Linked DNA regions of Homo sapiens. The protein of the gene in region 1 purifies or fractionates together with the protein of each later gene. This does not show direct contact. Each region holds a gene or a part of one and is shown in the gene's direction. Other genes may lie near its edges.

The links. Proteins that work in one complex are often made in the same cells at the same time.
Region 2: the proteins of NEK1 (region 1) and CPT1A purify together in Homo sapiens (affinity purification with mass spectrometry, with the first as the bait; one large-scale study listed by BioGRID). This does not show direct contact.
Region 3: the proteins of NEK1 (region 1) and CAPZA1 purify together in Homo sapiens (affinity purification with mass spectrometry, with the first as the bait; one large-scale study listed by BioGRID). This does not show direct contact.
Region 4: the proteins of NEK1 (region 1) and EXOG purify together in Homo sapiens (affinity purification with mass spectrometry, with the first as the bait; one large-scale study listed by BioGRID). This does not show direct contact.

What each region holds. Positions count from the first base shown.
Region 1 is NC_000004.12:169,403,084-169,406,583, reverse strand, and holds part of NEK1 (serine/threonine-protein kinase Nek1), read left to right. Parts: intron 1-3,500. UniProt on the Homo sapiens protein: Phosphorylates serines and threonines, but also appears to possess tyrosine kinase activity. Involved in DNA damage checkpoint control and for proper DNA damage repair.
Region 2 is NC_000011.10:68,831,917-68,835,416, reverse strand, and holds part of CPT1A (carnitine O-palmitoyltransferase 1, liver isoform), read left to right. Parts: intron 1-3,500. UniProt on the Homo sapiens protein: Catalyzes the transfer of the acyl group of long-chain fatty acid-CoA conjugates onto carnitine, an essential step for the mitochondrial uptake of long-chain fatty acids and their subsequent beta-oxidation in the mitochondrion.
Region 3 is NC_000001.11:112,661,332-112,664,831, forward strand, and holds part of CAPZA1 (F-actin-capping protein subunit alpha-1), read left to right. Parts: intron 1-3,500. UniProt on the Homo sapiens protein: F-actin-capping proteins bind in a Ca(2+)-independent manner to the fast growing ends of actin filaments (barbed end) thereby blocking the exchange of subunits at these ends.
Region 4 is NC_000003.12:38,509,840-38,513,339, forward strand, and holds part of EXOG (nuclease EXOG, mitochondrial isoform 1 precursor), read left to right. Parts: intron 1-3,500. UniProt on the Homo sapiens protein: Endo/exonuclease with nicking activity towards supercoiled DNA, a preference for single-stranded DNA and 5'-3' exonuclease activity.

The sequences.
Region 1 (3,500 bases):
TCATTAGTAAACAGCATTAAAAGATTTTCTGAATTTATATGTAAAAAAGAGGGGATAACTTACCTAGCTCTTTTTTTTAACTCATTAACCTCTGCTTTTATGTCTTCTGTATATTATTTTTATCTATTTTAAGAGACAGGGTCTCACTCTGTCACCTAGCTGGAATACAGGCTGGACACAGTGGCTATAATGTCATTAGTAAACAGCATTAAAAGAGTTTCTGAATTTATATGTAAAAAAGAGGGGATAACTTACCTAGCTCTTTTTTTTAATCATTAACCTCTGCTTTTATGTCTTCTGTATATTATTTTTATCTATTTTAAGAGACAGGGTGTCACTCTATCACCTAGCTGGAGTGTGGGTTGGACACAGTGGCTCACACCTACAATCCCACCACATTGGGAGGCCAAGGCAGGAGGAATGTGAGACCAGCCTGGGCAACATAGTGAGACACCATCTCTACAAAAAAAAATTTATTTTTTCTTTTGAGGTGGACTCTTGCTCTGTCACCCAGGCTGGAGTGCAGTGGCATGATCTTGGCTCACGGCGACCTCTGCCTCCCAAGTTCAAGCGATTCTCCTCCTCAGCCTCCTGAGTAGCTGAGATTACTTGCCACCACGCCTGGCTAATTTTTGTATTTTTGGTAGAGATGGGGTTTCAGCATGTTGGTCAGGCTGGTCTCAAACTCCTGACCTCAAGCGATCTGCCCACCTTGGGCTCCCAAAGTGCTAGGATTACGGGCATGAGCTACCACACCTAGCCAAAAAAAATTTTTTTAATAGCCAGGTTTGTTTCCACATGCCTTGTAGGTAGTCTCAGCTACTCAGGAGGCTGAGGTGGAAAAATCATTTGAGCCCAAGAGTTTGAGGCAGCAGTGAGCCATGATCATGCCACTGCACTCCAGCCTGAGCAACAGAGTGAGACCCTGTCTCAAAAATGAAAAATAAATAAGCTGGAGTGCACTGGCATGATGATAGCTCACTGCAGCCTCCAACTCCTGGACTCAAGCAATCTTTCCACTTCACTCTCCCAAATAGCTAGGATTACAGGTGTGAGCCACTGGGACTGGCCAAGTTAATTTATTATTGCAGAAAAATAAATTGATAAATTTAGTGTAGCCTAAGCATATACTGTGTTTATAAGTCTATAGTAGTGTATAGTAATGTCCTATGATAAGTACCCTATAAAGTTTACCATTTTTTATCTTTTATACAGTGTTTTCACTGTACCTTTTCTATGTTTAGATATATTTAGAATAGACAGATAGCATTGTGTTACAGTTGCTTCCAGTACTGAGTACAGTCATATGCTGTACAGGTTTGTAGCTTAGGAGTAAACAGGCTCTACTTTGTAGCCTAGGTATGTAGTTAGCTATACTGACTAGGTTTGTGTAAGCACATTCTATGATGTTAGCACAACAATGAAATTGGCTATAACAATGCATTTCTCAGAATGCTTCCTGTTGTTAAGCAATTCATGACTGTGCTCTACAGTTTCCCAGGAGAATGACCAGAAAGCTCCACATCTACCTCTTGCCATATATGATTTCAAAGCCATGCCAATGGGGAGTTAGCAGGTCGACCAGTTTTGTTCATGTGTGTGTGTGCACATGTGTCAGTGCACACATGTTTTCTGCATGTAATTGGATTGTTTTCACAAAATTGCTTTCTTTGTGATTCATGGGGAATCCTGAATCTAGGAGGGAAATTTAACAAGCAATACCTCTGAGAGCTGTAAGGAGTGATAACCCCTTAGATTGTGCACATGTACCCTAAAACTTAAAGTAAAATTAAAAAAAAAATTTTTTTCCATAAAAAAACAAAAAGAACCTTCCTTTACCTTGTTCAGTGTTGGTCAGCCCTCTCAACTGTCTTAGACAAATGTTACACACTTTTTGGTGTAATAAAACCAGAGTTTCCTAGAGTAAGGTGAGAAGGTACAGTGTGTTCAAATCACCTGGATAAAAAGTTATAAAATATTAGAATTTTTATAATTTATTTTGTAATTTCTTTGAACTTGTTTCTGCTTTTTACTTTTACCTTTGGAAAGAACTTGTATTTTGATCTGATTGAAAGTATTATATCACTCTCATAATGTTTTCTTCTGTATTGAGTTACGTAGGATCGATGCCGCTGGCACATTTTATTTTCTGGTTTTTGGTTCTTTTTTAAGCCTTGCCCTTGCTTCTTAAGTTTCTGGTGAAACTTCATTTTTAAAAGATTGCCTTTTTCATTTTTCCTAGAGTTCTGTAGATTTTTGCTAATGACCTTACAATCTAGAAGAAAAGTTACCTTTTTACTTTTGTTTCTTCTACTTGACTGTAGTCATTAAACACTGAAATATTGTGTTTTTATTAATCCTATTGGAGAACATAACAACATTCAGGATTTTTATTGTTGACAAACTGCTAACTAAAATTTTTTTCCCAAAAATTTTATGAAATCATTTATTTTTATCTGAATGAACTACAGCTTATTTGTGGCTTGTGTTCTTTTATTTTTTCTTTCTTCCAAGCTGCTAAGTTTGTGTTATGCATGTGTTCTTTTAATGAACAATTGATGACAGAATTTTATTTTAAAACTTAAGTTAGAAGCCTTTAGTATTAATTGAAAAATTCGAAAACCAAGTTGTTTTTAAAGTACGTTATTTCATATTGTTATAGGGATATTTCACTTGATGTTTGTCTTTGGAAAATTATTATTATTTTTTTTTGTCTAAACTTTAGTCAAGATTTTATAAGATAGCCAACTAAAAACTGAATTCAAGACCAAATTTTTTTAAGTACCTTAAAGTTTTTTGGTGCTCATTTAGTAAAAGATCTTAATCTTCTCATACTTTCTTACAGTGGCAAGCTTAGCTGCCTCAATTGAATACCATCTGCAGAGGGTACTAATTCCTCTAGGCCAGCCACTAGATGATTTTATGAACAGGTCAATATTTACTCATTGTAGTAATGGTACATAGCAGGTGTGCATACTTCGTTGATCTTTTTTTAATAATAAAATTTTTTGGGGGAGATAGGGTCTCACTCTGTCACCCTGGCTATAGTACAGTGCTGCAATCATAGTTCACAGCAGCCTTGGACTCCTGGGCTCAAGCAGTCCTCCTGCCTCAGACTCCCTAGTAGCTAGGAATACAGGCTCGTGCCACCACGCCTAGCTAAGTTTTTTGCAATTTTTTTTCTAGAGGGGTCTCGCTATGTTGCCCAGGCTTGTCTCAAACTCCTGGCCTCAAGCAATCCTCTTGTCTCAGCCTCCCAAAGGGCTAGGATTACAGGCATGAGCCACTGTACCCAGCCTAAATTAGTCTTGTAATTATATATTAAGTTAAATGCTACTAGTAGGATGATTCAAGAGATTAGACACTATTTTCTCATTCTAATTAGATGCTTTGCTTTTCTATAGCTCCTACAAGTCAAATTGTAGGCGTTTGTACATATAAGTACAAAATAAAGATATTTCTACATAAAAAGATTATTTACTCTATTAATGGAAATTATA
Region 2 (3,500 bases), on another chromosome or scaffold:
TGTGCAAAGGTGAAGAATATGCATGGGAGATACAGGGGACACCGCTCCTGTTGTCTTAGGGACATTTGTGGGAACAATATACTGGTACGAAGAGGAGGTTTAGGATGTCCTTTGGGCAGGTGCAGGTCTCCTCCTTGCAGTCTGAGCTCCTGCCCGAGTGCCGATGCTGGCTAGAGGCAGGGCAGGCACAGTGGGAAAGAAGTAGCAGCTGTTAAACTTCTGGTGGGCTTCTGAATAGCTAGGTCAGATAACTGGGTCTGTCAATACGTTGGCTATCTTCTTTATAAAATTGTGAATCTTTGTGGCTTTTCCAAATTTTTTTTCTAAGATCATATTTGTCTGTATTTATCTAACCATTACTTATTGACGTGGTGCACTATAAGGTCTAAATTTGAATTGGCTTAATTTTTTTTTTTTTGAGATGGAGTCTCGCCCTATCGCCCGGGCTGGAGTGCAGTGGCGCAATCATGGCTCACTGCAACCTCCGCCTCCCCAGTTCAAGCAATTCTCCTGCCTCAGCCTCCCGAGTAGCTGAGATTACAGGCATGCACCACCATGCCCAGGTAGTTTTTGTTTGTTAGTAGAGACAGGGTTTCATCATGTTGGCCAGGCTGGTCTCAAACTCCTGACCTCAAGTGATCCACCCAGAATTGGCTTAATTTTTACAGTACTTGGTAAGACAGGGTCTCGCTCTGTCATCCAGGCTAGAGTGCAGTGGCGTGATCATAGCTCACTATAACCTCAAACTCCTGGGCTCGAGTGATACTCGCAAGTAGCTGGGACCACAGGCATGCACTACCCACACCTTGGCTAATTTTTGTATTTTTTGTAGAGATGGGGTCTTGCTACATTGCCCAGATTGGTCTCAAATACCTGGGCTCAAGCGAACTTCCTGCCTTCGCCTGCCAAAGTATTGGGATTACAGGCATGAGCCACCATACCCAGTCCAGAATTCCTTTTATTTTATTATTTTTATTTTTTGAGACGAAGTCTCCCTCTGTCACCCAGGCTGGGGTGCAGTGGCATGATCTCGGCTCACTGCAACCTCTGCCTCCCGGGTTCAAGCGATTCTCCTGCCTCAGCCTCCCGAATAGCTGGATTACAAGTGCCCACCACCACACCTGGCTAATTTTTGTATTTTTACTAGAGATGAGGTTTTGCCACGTTGGCCAGGCTGGTCTTGAACTCCTGACCTCAGGTGATCCACACGCCTCAGCCTCCCAAAGTGCTGGGATTATAGGCATGAGCCACCGTGCCCAGCCCAGAATTCCTTTTATAACCTGACGACCCATTATATTGACCCCATAAATGTGAATAGTCCATTATGATAAACTTCAGTACAGGAAATCCACTGTGTGGCCAATTTAAATAATGTGAATATTGAATGATCAGTCATGAATTCAAGACGCAACCTTTCATAATGAAAGCTCCAGGCTGGGTGTAGTGGAGCACACCTGTAGTCCCAGCTTAGGCTGAGGCAAGATGATCTCTTGAGCCAGGAGTTCAAGGTCACGCTCGGCAACAGAACAAGACCCTGTCTTATAAAAAAAAAATAATAATGAAAATCCTTCACCTTTCTTGTACATGAAACCCTCCGAAAAACATAAGGTGAGTCTTACATTCTCACTTCTAAGGTGCTTCCATCAGGTTTGGGAAACAATTTCTTTTTTTTTTTCTTTTTTGAGATGGAGTTTCGCTCTTGTTGCCCAGGCTGGAGTGCGGTGGTGGGACCTTGGCTCACTGCAACCTCCACCAACCAGGTTCAAGCAATTCTCCTGCTACAGGTGCCCACCACCACACCCAGCTAATGTTTTGTATTTTTAGTAGAGATGGGGTTTCACCATGTTGGCCAGGCTGGTTTTGAACTCCTGGCCTCAGGTGATCCGCCCACCTTGGCCTCCCAAAGTGCTGGGATTACAGGCGTGAGCCAACACGCCCAGCCAAGTTTGGGAAACAACTTCTGTTTGTGTGTATACACATTTACTGGAAAAGTACAAGGGCACCATTACAGATGTGCATATCTGCAATTGAATAACGATGTGGCTCATACAGTGCAGAGAGCGCACACCCACACTTGCCTGGAGAAGAGGAGCTGCTGCTTTTCTTCCTTCCCATTATTGCTAATTTTTGCCTGCATCTCAGTTCAGAAGAGCCATGAACTTTACTGCACATGTGTGCTAGTTCTAGGGAACCCCCTGGGCTGCTGCTGTCCTTCCAGAGCCTTCCTGGTACTTCCCTTGAAGTTCTTTGGGCAGCAGTGAGGAGGCCAGGCCAGATTTTTGCCACCTTGGACATCATGCATGTTGTGAAGGTGGTTTCCCCGAGCTGGAGCCAGTCCCGGAGGCTGGCACTAGCTTTCTAGCGAAGCAGAATCTTCCCAGGCATTGGTCACCCGGGCATCCAAGAATGTGTTGTAGATGATGAGATAACTGCCCTGCCCTTCGCCAGAGACACTGCTTCTGACCCTGCCTACAGCGCCTTCTCCAGTTTTTCCAGGGATGAGGCCCATGTCATCCAGCCTCACACTTTCTCTGTTCCTAGAGGCCCTGCCTGGTATTCCTGCTGAGCTAAGCTGTCGCTTCCCATGGGTAACATTTTCTCAGAGGATTTCCAACATAGTTGTTTACCGCTGGAGGAGATGGGCAGCTGTTAGCTAGGTTTGAATAGAAAGCAGAGCCTGCTCCTGTGTGCATGGGCACTGTGCAATGCTAGTGGGAAGACTGCAGCATGTGAATAATTTTACAGTTGGCACTGATGGTGTTTATACTTACTGGAGTTTTATTGCTGGCTGCAATCTCATCATTTTGGTTACAACAGTGACCTAATTTTATATCTGTGTTGTAACTTTAGGAATCCTAAGTAGAACTTTTTGTGTAGTACCTACCACTTTACTTTGGGAGTTAAGAGTATAAGTTTTGGAGTTGGACCTGGGTTTTTGTTTGTTTGTTTGTTTGTTTGTTTGTTTTTGAGACAGAGTCTCGCTCTGTCACCCAGGCTGGAGTGCAGTGGTGCAATCTTGGCTCACTGCAACCTCCACCTGCCAGGTTCAAGAAATTCTCCTGTCTCAGTTTCCCTAGTATCTGGGACTACGGGTGCATGCCACCAAGCCCAGCTAATTTTTTGTATTTTTAGTAGAGACAGGGTTTCACCATATTGGTCAGGCTGGTCTCGAACTCTTGAGCTCAGGTGATCTGTCCGCCTTGGCCTGCCAAAGTGCTGGGATTAGAGGCGTGAGCCACCGCACCTGGCCTGGGCCTGGGTTTGATTTCCAGCCCTGCTATTTGCTGGCTGTGACACTGGGCAAGTTTCTTGACATCTAAGCCCTGGTTTTCTCATTAGTACATGGAGATAGCCCTAGTACCCATTTCCTAGGGTGCTAGTGGGAATTAAATGATCTAATGCTAGTCAAATACATCAATATAAAAATATATATGGGTCACATTGTCTAGCATATGCCAAAGGGTTTGGTAAAAAGAATGTTCTGGGTCGGGCACAGTGGC
Region 3 (3,500 bases), on another chromosome or scaffold:
GCTTCCTCAAGTAGGACAACTTTCAAGCACATTCTGTTTAGTCTTCCGGAGCCCAATACCCACAGCTGTAACCTGCTCATAAACGTACCTCTAAGGCTTCCTTCCCTTCTGTGTCCCACTTCTTCTGTCCCCTACTGTAGCTTTGTGAGATTCGCTCCTGAATAAACTACTTTTTCTCTAATCTTTGTCTTGGGGTCTCCTTCTGGGAAGGTGCAACCTAAGACAGCATACTGTTCTGTTTCTGTTAACAAAATATCTTAGTAGCCTAGCGCTCTAGATCTCTTGTAACTGTGGCATTAGCATTAACTTCCTAGAACCATGGTATCAGCATTGTAGAAGCTTATTGTAAATTTTGTGTAAATAAATTTTACTTTGTTTCTAGATGGAAACAGCCATTTGTATTTTAGCTCTGCCAGTGCAAACCTATAAAATAAGAGCACACATCACAAAGGGTGATAATTTATGGTAAGATTCAAAATACAGCCCAGTGTACAGACCCACATTTAAACCTTTTTAAGCACAGATTGAGCACACTTTTGGGGAAAGCTTATTTCATTTACATATCTTTTAAATTTTGGAGTGAGAATTATTTGGAAAAGTCGTTAAGATATTTAGCCTTTCAGGCTAGTCTATAGGCAAAAACATCGTTCTGAGAAGGCAACAATTTCTGAGGATTTATGTTGATGACAATCATGTTGAAATTTGTGTTAGTTAATTGAACCATTTTCATATTAGCAGATGAGACCTAGAAAAGGTCTTAGAACACATAAGTTTTGAGCTTAATTTCTTTCTTGAAACGGTGTATCTCAACTCTGTCACCTAGGCTGGAGTGCAGTGGTGCTTTCATAGCTCACTGCAACCTCAAACTCCTCAACTAAATGATCCTCCCACCTCATCCTCCCAAGCACCTAGTGCTACAAGCACATACCACTGTACCTGGCCAACTTTTTTTATTTTTTTGTAGAGTCGGGGTCTCACTATATTGCCCAGGCTGGGTTAATTTCTAAAAATTATAATAACATTAGTGTATTAGGTAATGAAATTAATATTTTTTAGAATTTTTCTTTTTTTTTTTTTTTTTTTTTGAGACAGAGTCTCGCTCTGTTGCCCAGGATGGAGTGCAGTGGCAGGATCTCGGCTCACTGCAAGCTCCACCTCCCGGGTTCATGCCATTCTCCTGCCTCAGCCTCCTGAGTAGCTGGTACCACAGGCGCCCGCCACCATACCTGGCTAATTTTTTGTATTTTTAGTAGAGACAGGGTTTCACTGTGTTAGCCAGGCTGGTCTCGAACTCCTGACCTTGTGATCCGCCTCCCTCAGCTTCCCAAAATGCTGGGATTACAGGCGTGAGCCACTGCGCCTGGCCCTAGAATTTTTCATTGAGATCAAAAACAGTGAGGCTTATTGACCTTACCCTATATTCCTTTCCATGTCCTAATTAAAAAACATAACAGAAGTTCAAACTAATTGTATAGTCTTTATTCTCGAACAAAAAGAATGTGCTCTGCATACCTCCTCTCTTTAGACAAGTTCTGAGAAATACAGAAGTTCTTGTTTCTTCTATGGCCAGATCTGTTGTTGTTTTTTTAAATATCTCCCATCCTGTTTGTAATAATTCCCCCCTGCCCCCTTTTTGTTTTGTTTTGTTTTTTGAGATGGAGTCTTGCTCTGTCGCCAGGCTGGAGTGCAGTGACACGACCTTGGCTCATTGCAACGTCCGCCTCCTGGGTTCAAGCGATTCTCCTGCCTCAGTCTCCCAAGTAGCTGGGCGTACAGGCGCATGCCACCACGCCCAGCTAATTTTTTGTATTTTTAGCAGACACCGGGTTTCACTGTGTTAGCCAGGATGATCTTGATCTCCTGACCTCGTGATGCGCCTACCTTGGCCTCCCAAAGTGCTGGGATTACAGGCGTGAGCCACTGCACCCGGCTCATTCCCCTTTTGAATGTTCTTTTCAGTCCCTGAACCTCTAGTTTTTTTAATGAAAAAACAAACAAAACTGATATTTGATTGTGACCTACTTGTATTTTAAATATTCTTATCTATTGGGATTTTAACCTTTATATGTCATCATCATTTAGCCCAGTCTTTTTTGCCCACATCTTTGCTGTTCTGATTTTACATGTAAGTATTAGTGGTTCTTATTATCACCCTTCTTTTCCATTGGATTCTCATCTTGTCTCCAGTGGATTCCAGTCTCTCTCTGTCACCCAGGCTGGAGTGCAGTGGTGCAATCTCAGTTCACTGCAGCCTCTGCCTCCTGGCTTCAAGTGATTCTCCTGTCTCAGCCTCCCAAGTAGCTGGGATTACAGGCACCTGCCACCATGCCTGCCTAATTTTTTTTGTATTTTTAGTAGAGACAGGGTTTCACCATGTTGGTCAGGCTGGTCTCGAACTCCTGACCTCAAGTGATCTGCCCACCTCGGCCTCCCAAAGTGCTGGGATTAAATGTGTGAGCCACCATGCCTGTTCTCAGTAGATTCTTATATTGTCTTTTCTTCTTTAACCTCTTAGAAAGCCAAAAGGTAAAATTTCAGGGTTTAGAGAGGGTATGGAAAGTCTAGCTTCTCATGCCCATCTGGATAGAGCCAGCTGTTTGTCCTCATTCAAGAAGATACTTGCCGGGCACGGTGGCTCACGCCTGTAATCCCAGCACTTTGGGAAGCCAAAGCAGGGGGATCATGAGGTCAAGAGATCGAGACCAGCCTGGGCAACACAGTGAAACCCCATCTCTGTTAAAAATACAAAAATTAGCTGGCCATGGTGGCACGCACCTGTAGTCCCAGCTACGTGGGAGGCTGAGGCAGGAGAATTGCTTGAACCCAGGAGGCAGAGGTTGCAGTGAGCCGACATCAGCCACTGTGCTCCAGCTTGGGCGACAGAGCGTGACACTGTCTCAAAAAAAAAAAAAAAAAAAGATACTTATTTTTGTCCTTTAAACAAGGATAGGTAGGGGGTTCTTGTTATCCAGGAAAGTCTTTTTGTTGCAAATAGCTTTCTGCCTAGATGAAGCTTGACTGTTAGTTATGCCCTTCTAATGATATCCACAAAGAGTAAGCCCCTGCTGAGACACTATTTCTCCCCAGATCAAGGAATTTCTAACTTTTTGACAAAACATAGCATTGGGAGGTATTACATATGTTGGATAGCTCTGGAATTTGACCTAATTCAAATCCTAGCTCCTCCTCTTACTAGGTGTGTGAACATGGATAAGTTATTGTTTAATAACTGCCTCAAGGCAAACTTCAGTTTCCTCAGCTGTAAAATAGGGTTAGTCGTAGTCCTCATCTCATAAGAGTTTTTGTAAAGATTAAATGTGGTGGCCTAGCGCAGTGGCTCATGACTGTAATCCCAGTACTTTTGGGAGACCGAGGTGGGTGGATCACAAGGTCAGGAGTTCGAGACCAGCCTGGCCAACATGGTGAAACCTCGTCTCTACTAAAAATACAAAAGTTAGCCGGGCGTGGTTGCGGGTGCCTGTAATCCCAGCTACTTGGGA
Region 4 (3,500 bases), on another chromosome or scaffold:
GCATACCATAGAATGTCAGTTAATAAATTTGCGAGAATGAAAGAGTTATACAAATCATTTTGCACACATCACCATAATTGATTCAGGCAAGAGTCATCACTAGCTAAAACTAGTGAGTGAATGTTTTATGAGGAATAGGGTATTTACATAATCTAAAAGTATCTCCTCATACATTATTTATTAATCACAAAGTAAGAAATAACTTTACAGTGAAGAAACATCCCATTACCCAAGTGATCAAGTTTAGTATTGCTAGTAATGGGACTTAGTGAAACGCTGTACTCCTGGTGTGATGCACTGAGCAGGATAAAATATCAGGCATACCCCAATTGAGAGACATTCTGTGAAACAGCTGACTTCTACTTTACAAAAGTGTTAGTGTCATAAAAGACAAAGGCTGAGAAACTATCTGTTCCAGATTAATAGATTAAAGAGTCATGCAAACAAAATGTGTAGTATGATCTTAGATTAGATCCTAGACCAGAAAAAAGTTGCTAAAAAGGATGTTATTGGGAGAATTGGCAACATTCGAGGTCTGTTATCTAATATACAAATTAGATAATTGTGTATTTTCAGTATTAAATTTCCTGATTTTTAAAATTGTTCTGTGATATGTAAGTAAATATCTTTGCTCTTAGGAAGTCATATCCTGAAGTGTTTAGGAGTAAAATGGTGTGCCTGTGACTTTTAAAAAGTTTAGGGAAAAGAGAAGAGAGTGATAAAGCAAATAGAACAAAATGTTAACAATTGGTAAATCTGAGTGAAGGATATAAAGGAAGGAGTTCTTTGTGCTGTTCTTACAAATGCTAAGCTTTTAATTAATTCAGAATTTTAAAATTATATATTAAATATTATATAGATATTTAAATAAAATATTAAAAGATATATTAAAATAGTTTATCAGTGAAATGATACTCAAACATGTTCAAGCTAGCCTTAAAGAGTTTCAAAAGAGACCTATCAGCTCTCCTCACCCTAGTTAGTGTCATAATGATCAGTCATGTGAGGTCAGTCAAGATCAGCTTCCTGAAGAGTATACTTTGAGTAATAGTCTTGTTTCTTGTTTTTATTTTAAAGACTTGCTGGTCTTAGGTATTCTCTTTCAGATTCTGGGCTTCTAAGGTCATATCATTAGTTTTCCATGTCTCTTATTAATTTATAGGACCTATGCATGTTCACACTGGCAAATCTTTAATTCAGTAAGTCATCCGTTCAGCAAATTTTCAAGTACCTGTCATGTGGGAGGAAGGTATACAGAATTGTAAATGGCATGCTCCAAACTTATATTCTTGATTACTTTCTTCCTCTCCTGTATTTCACATCCTGGCAGTCATCTCTCACTCTTAATTACTTTGAACCAACAACTTTTATTAATTCTCTTTTTTTAAAATAACTTTTACTTAGACATACCGAAGCTCTGAACACCTGCAGTATTGCAGAGGCCTCTAATGGGTTTCTCTGCCTCCAATTGCGTTGGCTACCAGTCTATCTGGAGTACAGAAACCATGACAGAGAAAGTATACGTTGTTACTTTCCTAATCCTCGGAACCATAAAAAAAGGAATAACATTAAAAGAACAGAAAAGGAAACTTCATTTATACTGAAATTAGGGAATGTTCACAGTCCTGTATCAAGGAATTTTTCAAATAATATCTGCAAGATAAAGTGAAATTTGGACCAAATTATAAAGGATGTTAATTTGACATGTCTCCTCTTATCAAAGCATGGGACAGGGTACTAGAATTAGTAAGGAAGTTCAGACCTACCGGTAGTAGACCACAGGAGAAATTTCTGGTGTTTAACTTGGAGCTTATCCCTTTATCTTGCAATAGTAGGAAAGGCAGGGTGGTTATAGTTGTTAAAAGCACATATTTCATGTCAGATCTGGCCTTGGATCTTTGCTTTGATACTTACTTGCATGTGGTCCTGGGAAAATGACCTAACTTCTTTAAAGTTCAGTTTTATCTGTGATATTTGGATAGTAGTAGTGTTTACCTCACCGAGTTGCTAGTATCATCGTTAGCTTGGTAGTTAGCACATAGGAAATGTTCAGTAAATATTAGCTACTATTACTCCTTTGGAGGCTAACATAAGAATGAAGACCAGTGTTTTTTGTATTCTTTGGTGCATGTACTCATAAACCTATGATTTCTAAGATTCTTTTTTACTTCTCCTTTCTTATCTACAGAAGCCCAAAAGTCAGGTGCCTCTTTATTAATTTTAAAGCACAATTTTTGTAGTCTTCTAAGTCGATGCTTTTGAGTTCATGAGTTCATGTTATGTTAGGAGTTGTGAAATTAGATACTTACATTAAACACGGTTTAGTCTTGATGCTTTTTTTTCGCTCATGGCATTAAAGTCATAACTGGCAAACTATCTTTCCTTGAAATTAAACTTGAAAAATTTTTAAATTATGCAATTATATGTGCATAATGATAAAAATGCTAAATCTTAAAACATGATTGTGGAAATATATGACATTGTAATGAAATTCAAACAGTACAAAGCAGCATGAAAAGGTAAAGTCTCACTTATACTCCTTATCCCACTGTCCAGTTTTTATTTGTTTTGGCACTTATTTCTATATCTCAGAATAATGAGCACTAAAATATATTTTTAACTTGTGACCTGTCGCTTATTAACAGTTACTTTATCTCTATAAAATTATGAAATTTATTGTTTATTTCTTGCACTGCACTATACTCTGCTAGTCATATATACTTAATTTTAGTTCTTCCGTTGGTAAACTTTGCATCATATACTTTACATAATATACTTGAACCTCTAATCTTGATCTACCATTTATACTTGTCAAGGTTTGTAGCATTTACATTTATGTTTGCTAACGATAATGTAGTCTGAGTTTTGCCTGTAGCAGAGTTTGTAAACTGAGGCCTCTTATGGCAAGTCCAGCCCATAGAGGTATTTTATTTGGCTCACATGGTATATATATATATATTTTTAAGTTTTTCATAGAGATAGGGTCTTGCTCTGTCTGCTAGGCTGGAGTGCAGTGACAAGATCGTAGCTCACTGTAACCTTTATCTTCTGGGCTTTCGAGATCTTCCCACTTCAGCCTACCAAGTAGCTACGACTACAGGCATGCACCACCATGCCCAGCTAATTTTTAAGTTTCTTTTTTGTAGAGGTGGGGGTCTCACTATGTTGCCCCAGCTGGCCTTAAATTCCTGGCCTCAAGTAGTCCTCCCACCTCCACCCCTCAAAGGGCTGGAATTAAAGGCGTGAGCCACCACACCTGACTGTATGTTATTTTTTAATTAGTTTATAATGTTTAATAATTGGGAGATTTCACATAAATCCAGATTTTAGCTTCTCTTAAATCAGATGACTCCGTAACAATTGGCATATACTCCCATAGGCAGCCAGTTTACTAGACAAGAGTATCAACCTTCTCCTTAGATTGAACACACATCTTCAAATCACTGTAGTCTTTACCTGCCCCATTTTACTCACTTACATTTCCTGTCTAGCCCTTGTTG